Regions from separate parts of the Homo sapiens genome. Here regions 1 and 3 are each linked to region 2. Evidence: fine-mapped expression QTL. A gene starts in region 2. Each other region holds a variant in brackets. All regions are shown on one strand. Distances are between the middles of the regions. Region 1 overlaps PRKCB (protein kinase C beta). Region 2 holds the start of PRKCB (protein kinase C beta). Region 3 overlaps PRKCB (protein kinase C beta).

What was found. PIP is the estimated chance that this variant, and not a neighbour inherited with it, causes the effect.
Region 1: its variant is the best candidate, but not a certain one, in a credible set for the expression of PRKCB in monocytes after LPS (Kim-Hellmuth 2017, PIP 0.51).
Region 3: its variant is the best candidate, but not a certain one, in a credible set for the expression of PRKCB in whole blood (INTERVAL, PIP 0.75).

The regions. Positions count from the first base shown.
Region 1 is chr16:23,916,915-23,919,724 of GRCh38, forward strand. The region is part of intron 2 of PRKCB (protein kinase C beta); the gene reads left to right. Among named protein-coding and RNA genes, the nearest start is that of PRKCB, 82 kb to the left of the region's middle. The variant T/A (reference allele first, on the strand shown) is at 1,493.
Region 2 is chr16:23,834,695-23,837,351 of GRCh38, forward strand. PRKCB (protein kinase C beta) reads left to right here and starts at 1,289. Exons shown (of 17, transcript NM_002738.7): 1 at 1,289-1,654. The coding sequence starts at 1,482. RefSeq lists silencers at 785-1,424, 1,455-1,534, 1,865-1,944 and enhancers at 898-1,445, 1,446-1,991, 2,255-2,394.
Region 3 is chr16:23,925,354-23,928,163 of GRCh38, forward strand. All of the region lies in intron 2 of PRKCB (protein kinase C beta), which reads left to right. Among named protein-coding and RNA genes, the nearest start is that of PRKCB, 91 kb to the left of the region's middle. The variant C/T (reference allele first, on the strand shown) is at 1,417.

The DNA.
Region 1 (2,810 bases), 82 kb after region 2:
ATGACTGGCTGATTTTTGTATTTTTTTTTTTCATTGTTGTTGGTAGAGACAGGGTTTGTCCCTGTTGCCCAGGCTGGTCTTAAACTCCTGGGCTCAAGTGATAGGGTCACCTGGGCCTCCCAAAGTGTTGGGGTTACAAGAGTGAGCCACTGCACCCAATGTCTCATTCTATTTTTATTTATTTATTTTTTGAGACAGAGTCTCGCTCTGTTGCCCAGACCGGAGTGCAGTGGTCTTGGGTCACTGCAACCTCCACTTTCCAGGTTCATGTGATTCTTCCACCTCAGTTTCCTGACTAGCTGGGATTACAGGTGTGTGCTACCACACCCGGCTAATTTTTGTGTTTTTAGTAGAGATAGGGTTTTGCCATGTTGCCCGAGCTGGTCTCAAACTCCTGACTTCAGATGATCCACCTGCCTCCCAAAGGGTTGGGATTACTGGCGTGAGCCACCACGCCCGGCCACCTCATTCTGTTTTATGATTGCATCGTGGTCCATAGTATGGGCATCCCTGGGGTGTTTCCAAAATTGGGATATATTGACTCAGAAACCCTTCCTGTGGTTCTGTCCAAGCTCCTTGTTCATATGACCTGGCCTGGGGTGACTGGAGGAAGGATGTCCATTCGGAGATTAGGAGGGACTGCAGCTCTCGATTATGAATGGGATTGGCCTCCACAGGCCTGAGTGACAAGGACAAAGCAGAGCTGGTGAGCCCCATGCCAGGTGGCGGTCACTGGTGGAAGGCCATTTGTGACTTCTCTGCAGTTCTCCAGATGGACCACATTTAAAACAGAGGCACTGCCATTCATTTCTACTTGGTTGAGGAAAGGTTTCATCGCAGGCCCAGAGAGAGGATCAGATGTTTTTTGCAGTTTCTGGCAAGACATTAGTGGGTATCAGAGGGTAAGTGATCTCGTAAAGCTGACTCAAAGCAAGAGAAAATTTCGTGTCTGTCTTAGAAACACATTTGCCTCCAAAGGGAAGGCAGGGTGTGGAGGACTAATCAACGCATTTCACATTTGGTTTCTTTGTCTTTCTTGGTGATCTTACGTGACTAGCCCTGAATATTTTGCATATGTCAAGGAAACATTTCAAATTACTAAGATGAGAGGAAAATATGGGGAATGAATAAAATGGGGTTTATCAGCAAGAACAGCAAAAGACTTCTTAGAGCCGGCTGGGGATTGTTTTGTGAATCTCTAAACAAGAGGGGCAGTTTGACTTGGGGATGGGGGATGTTTTGACACTTGGAGGGATGGGAGGGAGCCAACAAAGATGTAAAGCAAAACTGGGATGGTGGTGATGGAGAAGCAGTGGGGGTTTCTATGGGAAGACATAGGAAATAATGGTCTGTCCTTCACAGAGTAGGTGAGGTCTACTAGAAGATACTTATCTTTTCCCTAAATTTCAGTCAACTTCACATGATTAAGTTTCCATTATTAAAGACTTGTTCTTTGTGTTACCTTTTTATTATTATTATTATTATTATTTTT[T/A]TTTTTTTGAAATAGAGTTTCACTCTGTCACCCAAGTTGGAGTGAATTGGCGTGATCTTGGCTCACTGCAACCTCCACCTCCTGGGCTCAAGAGATTCTCGTGCCTCAGCCACCCGAGTAGCTGGGACTACAGGCACACACCACCAGGCCTAACTAATATTTGTATTTTTAGTAGAGGTGGGGTCTTGCCATGTTGGCCAGGCTGGTCTCGAACTCCTGGGCTCAAGTAATCCACCCGCCTCGGCCTCCCAAAGTGCTGGGATTACAGGCATGAGGCACCATGCCAGGCCTTTTGTGTTACTTTTGTAAGAGATGAAATGAAACTAATATCTAATCAAATCTAAGCATCAAGCAATTAAAAATATTTTCTTAAATAACTATTGAGTTAAATAGGACTCAAAAGTACAATTGCAGAGAGGCTATAAATGAAAAAAAATAGAGTGCTATATAAAACAATGGATAAGATCAGCCAATGCTGTGCTTGCAGATAAGTTCATAGCTTTAATACTTTTATGATTAAGGATTGAGATGACTTGCTTTGAGCATAATCTGGCTATTCACTTATTCTAAGGAACTTGTCATGGCTCAAACATGTTTCTAGTATCCTCTTTAGAAATTCCGTTTAGATACAGTTTTCTTTATTAAACCTTCTAAGGTGACTATTTCAAAGATGAAACATTCATTTTGTTGTTTAAATTAACACGTATTTTTTAAAGGGTTATGTAAATGTGTTATCCATCAAGTATATCTTTGAGCCTTCATCACAGTGTGATGTAAGGGATATAAGTTGTTAAGGATCCAGCAGTAGAGAAAATTTCTGCACAAAAGTAACTATAGCTCTATTACTTTTGGAATATTCCCTAGGATACATCCAAAACCAAATCAAATTATACTACTTATAAAACACATTTGGAAAGATACTATGTGAATATGCTTTGAATACTGAGGCTTATGTTAGAACAGAGTCATGGACGAATTTGCAAAAAAAAAAAAACCTCCAAAATTTCCTGGAGTCTGACAAAAATACCGGATAGGGTTCCTGAATATATTTTCATGATCTTTGCTATATAACCAGATATCTCTATATTTTGAAATGGATCATATTTTATTAGTTTTTCTTAGTACACAAGCAACATGCTATCATTGCAGATGCCAGAAAGTAGGATCACATTGTTGTGCTATAGATCTCCAGAACTTCTTTATCTTGCAAAACTCAAAAACTCTATCATTTCTCAAACTCAAAACTCAACAATTCTCCATTCCCTCTTCCTCCACCCCATGGCCACCACCATTCTACTTTGTCTCTATGAATTTGAAT
Region 2 (2,657 bases):
AGTGGGGGTAAGAAGTGCCGACCTTTAAGTCTTCATTCATTCACTTGTTCATCCATGCCCTCACTCAATCAACCAATATTTACTGGGGTCTTGGGAGGTGTCAGGCACTGAGCTTGGTGCTGGGCGACATGGTGGTGAACAGCCCCCCTGCTCTCACAGAGCCTAGGTCTGGTGAAGGAGCTCACAGCCTAATGAAGCTCTGCGTTCCCAGAGTGGGGGACATGGTGGCAGTGGGTATCTTTAGGCCTTGTGCATGAACAGGGCGCTAAATAACATTGAATTACACATTGTAGACAATTATTACCCTTTCAGTTACCTTCAGATCACATCAAGGAGAGAGTCCTGGTTGGATAGTAATGTCTTTAACACCCCTCTAGCATTTATTAATTTCCTCTCTTAACAAATAAAAGATGACTTCAGTCGAAGATGCTTAGGACAGATGACGGCACCTGGAGATATTTTAATAATGTAGATACCTCTTGCTGTTCAAACTCAGACCAAAAGAGATAGGCTTTTTTTCCCCCAGAGGGTGCACAAATACGACCAGAATTTGTGAAGACGAGTCAGAAATGAATGAAATTTGGAAAAATATTGATCTACTGAAATCCTTCCTCCCCACACTATTAGCCCTATGTTACAGTTGGGGAAACGGAGTCGTTTTGCAGAGGGGATGGACAGAAGGTAGGGAGTTCTCTTCCAAACGTGCAGGAGGCAAGCAAAGCCAAGAATCTTCTCTGTGGTGGAGTTAGAGACATATAAAATAAAGATCGCTCCTCCCCTACCTCTGCAGAACGTGTGTGTGTATGTGTGTGTAAGTGTGTGCGGCCACAAGCCTTTCCGAATGAGTGACAGCGGGAGCCCATCCCTCCAGGAGACGCGTGCAGAATGACCAATGGGATGGATGGGGGTGGATGGGTACCAGTCTCCGCAGAGGCCGGGGTGGAATTCGCTGCGCCCCACCCCTTCCACCCGCTCCCCTTCGCCCCGTAGGTCTTTCCACTCTCGCTCCTCCCCTGGGCACATCTCCTGAACGCAGCCCCGGGGGCCGAGGACGGGGTGGGGTGGGGGGCGAGGCTCGGGTCCGACGACCCCGGGCTGCGGTCCCGGCGCTGCAGAGCTGCGGCTGTGCACGCTTAGCCGCGAGGCCCGCGGTAGCCCGGGCGCCGATATGTAAAGCAGCTGGCAGCGCTGGGCGGGGCCTGGGCGCGATGCAAATGAGGAGGGCGGGGCTGGCCCGGGGCTCCGCCTCCCTCCCCCGCAGCTGGGGCCAGCGGTGCCAAGCGCAGCTGGACGAGCGGCAGCAGCTGGGCGAGTGACAGCCCCGGCTCCGCGCGCCGCGGCCGCCAGAGCCGGCGCAGGGGAAGCGCCCGCGGCCCCGGGTGCAGCAGCGGCCGCCGCCTCCCGCGCCTCCCCGGCCCGCAGCCCGCGGTCCCGCGGCCCCGGGGCCGGCACCTCTCGGGCTCCGGCTCCCCGCGCGCAAGATGGCTGACCCGGCTGCGGGGCCGCCGCCGAGCGAGGGCGAGGAGAGCACCGTGCGCTTCGCCCGCAAAGGCGCCCTCCGGCAGAAGAACGTGCATGAGGTCAAGAACCACAAATTCACCGCCCGCTTCTTCAAGCAGCCCACCTTCTGCAGCCACTGCACCGACTTCATCTGGTGAGCGCGCGCGCGCAGGGCACCTTCCCGGGCCCCCGAGGGCAGCGCCGCGCCAGGGACCCCCTCTCCGCGCCCTCTGCGCCCTCCGCGCCCTCCGCACCCTGGGACCCCGCGTCTCCGGACTCCCGGCTCCGGACCCTGCTGCCCGGGACTCCCGGATGGACAGTCCTGCCGTTGCCCTGTCCCCACCCTGGTCCCAGACGGGCCGCCGCGGGGCGCCTCCTGCCCTCTCCTGCTCTCAGGCGCCTCTAGAGCGCCCAGGGGCGGCGTCGCGGGAGCCTTTGCTCCACCTGACTAGGAGCGCGCGGGGTCTGTGCCTGCCCTGGAGGGCAGCGCCTCGGGTGCTCTCCGACCCGGGGTTCCCTATCTCTCCGCCTGCTTCCGGGCGCGAGGAGCCCTCGCCCCCCACCCCTTGTTTCCGGGGGGGGCGGCGCCCTGGGTGTCCTTCTCTATCTCCCTGCGGGCATGGGACATCCTTTCTCACTCCTCTGTGCCTCCGGGCAGCGCCCTGTGTTATCTCCCATTGCCCCTCCCCGAGGGCCTGGGTTCCCCTTTCCACTCCTCGGTCACATCACTGCGGGCCCCTTTCTTCCCCAGTCCCTCCAGTAGTGGGGCATCCTTTCCTCCTTCCCAGTCCCCCTCCCAGAGGACACCACCGCCGCGGGGTCACTCTCGCCCTCCCTCTGAATGCGTCTTTATCTCTTCTCTTTTCCCGAGGGTGCTCGGGGCATCTATGGGTACATCTGTCGCCTGCCTTCAGCCCCTACCCCGACGGAAACGCTCCCCACTATCCCGCCACCTGGTGGTCGCAGCCTCCTCTCTTCTGCAGGAGTGAAGGCAGATGGGGGTTACAGCCGAGCTCCCACCTACCCCCACAAAGGCGGAAGACTCTTGGGCACCCGCCTGTGGCTGGGAGTTTGCACCTGGGGTACAGAGGCAGGGAGGAAGGCGGGTGACTCTGTGGGTAACTAGCTGGAGGCTGGGCCCCCCGGGCTGCCTGACA
Region 3 (2,810 bases), 91 kb after region 2:
GCTCTTTCAGACCTGACTGGTCATTGGGTATCTGTGGCCATGATAATCACTCTCTTCCTGGACGTGACCCTCCTCTCGTTAACCAGGATGCCTGTGTTCTTAAGGTTGGCCGTTTCCAAGGACAGAGAGCTTGCATCCCATTTCTAGGGGACTGGGGATCCAAGGACTCCATTCTTGACATTGTCTTGTCAGCCTTGAAGTGCCGAAACCCAGCATCCCTGTCTGAGGTCATCCTGTCTCTCTTCCAAACATGAGGACTTCTTAAATTTTTTAAAAAAAGTTTTTACTTGTATAAATTGAGAAGGCACAAGTGCAATTTTGTTACATGGATATGTTATTTAGTGGTAGAATCTGTGCTTTTGGTATGTCCATCACCCAGATAGGGTACCCTGTACTCATTAAGTGATTTCTTATCCTTCACTCCCCCACCCAACCCTTCCAAGAAGGATGACTATTACTCAACAGTCATTCAGTAGCCATTGGAGAATGACTATTATTCCATACTCTGTGTCTATGTGTATTATATAGTTCCCATTTATAACTAAGAATATGCATTATTTGACTTTCTCTTTCTGAGTTTTTTTTTTTTAAGATAATGGCTTTGGGTTCCATCCTGTTGCTGCAAAAGACATGATTTCAGACTGGGCATGGTGGCTCATGCCTGTCATATTAGCACACTGGGAGGCTGACGAAGGAAGATCACTTGAGCCCAGGAGTTTGAAACCAGCCTGAGCAACTTGGTGAGACTCCGGCTCTATAAAAATTAAATTAGCCAGGCATCGTGTTGTGTACCTGTGGTCCCAGTTTCTTGAGAGGCTGAGGCAGGAGGATCTCTTGAGCCCAGGAGTTCAAGGCTGCAGTGAGCTATGATCACACAACTGCCCCCCAGCCTGGGTGACAGAGTGAGACCCTGTTTTAGTCAGGACTTCAAGACCAGCCTTGCCAACATGGTGAAGCCCCATCTCTGCAAAAATACAAAAATTAGCTGGGCATGATGGCGGGTGCCTGTAGTCCCAGCTACTCAGGAGGCCGAGGTGGAAGAATCACTTGAACCCGGGAGGTGGAGGTTGCAGTGAGCCGAGATTGCCCCACTGCACTCCAGCCTGGGCGACAGAGTGAGACTGTTTCAAAAAAAATAAATAATAAATAAATAAATAAAAATAAAATCAAAGGTCTTACTCTTTTTTATGGCTGAGTAGTATTCTATTGTGTGTATGTATATATAGATATACATACATATACCACACACATACGTGTATATATGTATATATATGGTGGTATGTGTGTCTATATACACACAATGATATGTATATTAATATATATGTATATATAAATATATATACATTTTCTTTATCCAGTCATCCATTGATTGATGCTTAAGTTGATTCCATATCTTTGCTATTGTACTGTGATAAA[C/T]GTATGAGTGCAGGCATCTTTTATATAATAATTTCTTCTTTGGATAGCTGCCCAAAATTCAGGTAAAAGATCTCAGTCTACAAGGCAGCTCCCAAGCTTCAAAAAATTGTCCTGCCAGATTTTTAAAAGCAAGTTTTCTCAAAAGCTTCGATGTATACATTGGTCGATTTATTTATCCATTAAAGTATTTATTGAATACTTCTTACTGCGTATGGTGGTGGTGGTGCTGAGGTGTCTCACAGTGAACACAACAGGCGTAGCCTCTGCTATTACCAAAATTATTGTCTGGTAAAGAATGCAGATGGCTAACCAGGCAGGTGCCTGTACGGTGAGATATGTGCTGTGATGGCTGTAAGCGCATGGTGTGAGCGTAGAGTTGGGTGCTTAATTGAAGGCATCAGGAAGGCTTCCAGGACTAAATGATATCAAAGTCCCACCTTAAGGATGACAGGTTTAACTAAGTAAAGGAGGATGTGGAAAGAAGGGGGAGAGTGCTCCAGGCAGAGGAAATAGTATATACAAAAGCACAAGAGGATTGAAGAACCAAAATCACTTTGGCATGGCTGGAATGAAGGGCATGTTTGTGTATTTTCAGGGTAGGGGATGTGTTTAGGGACAAGCTCAGAGAAAAGGAAGTAAGGAACCCTGTCATAAAGGGCTCATCTGTCCTATGAAAGAGTGTGTACATTTTATTCTGAGAGTACAGAGCCTTTTCTTTTTTCTAAGCATTACATGATTAGATTTGTCTTTTAGAAACCACTCTGGCTGCCGTTAAAAATGAATTTCACAGTGACAAGGCTGGAGGAAGGATCTTGGGTTAGGAGGCGGTGGTAGTAATCTAGGCAGGACTTGAGGACGCCTGAGTGGTGGTGAGGAAGGAGAGAGGTGGATGGAAGATTCAAGAGATATTTAGGGGGTGTTATTGAGAGAACTTAGTGATTGATTTGGCGTGGGAGGAATGAGAAAGTCAGGGATGGCTCCCTGGTTTCTGGCTTGGGTACTAGGTGCGCTGGTGGTGCTTTTGACAGAGATAGAACCATGGGAGGAGGAACATGTTTTGAGGGAAGGCTGTCTCCCTTTTAGACACCTAGTTGGTGTCCAAATGGCACAGACCAGTTGGCGTGTGGATATCTTGGGGCTTAGGGCGTGGATCTGGGCTCAGGGTGGAGATCTGAGCCTTAGCTGCACATCAGTAGTCATTGCAGTCATGGAGTGTGCTGGGGTTTTGCCAAGAGCTCATGTAGATTCAGGCGAGAAGAGAGGAGGGGCCCAGGCTGGGAATACTGGCTTTGGAAATACTCTTGAAATATATAGAAATGAAAGAATGTATAGGGCTGTTTCCACAGACGTTTATTTTTTATTTTTATTTTTTTGAGATGGTGTTTCACTCTTGT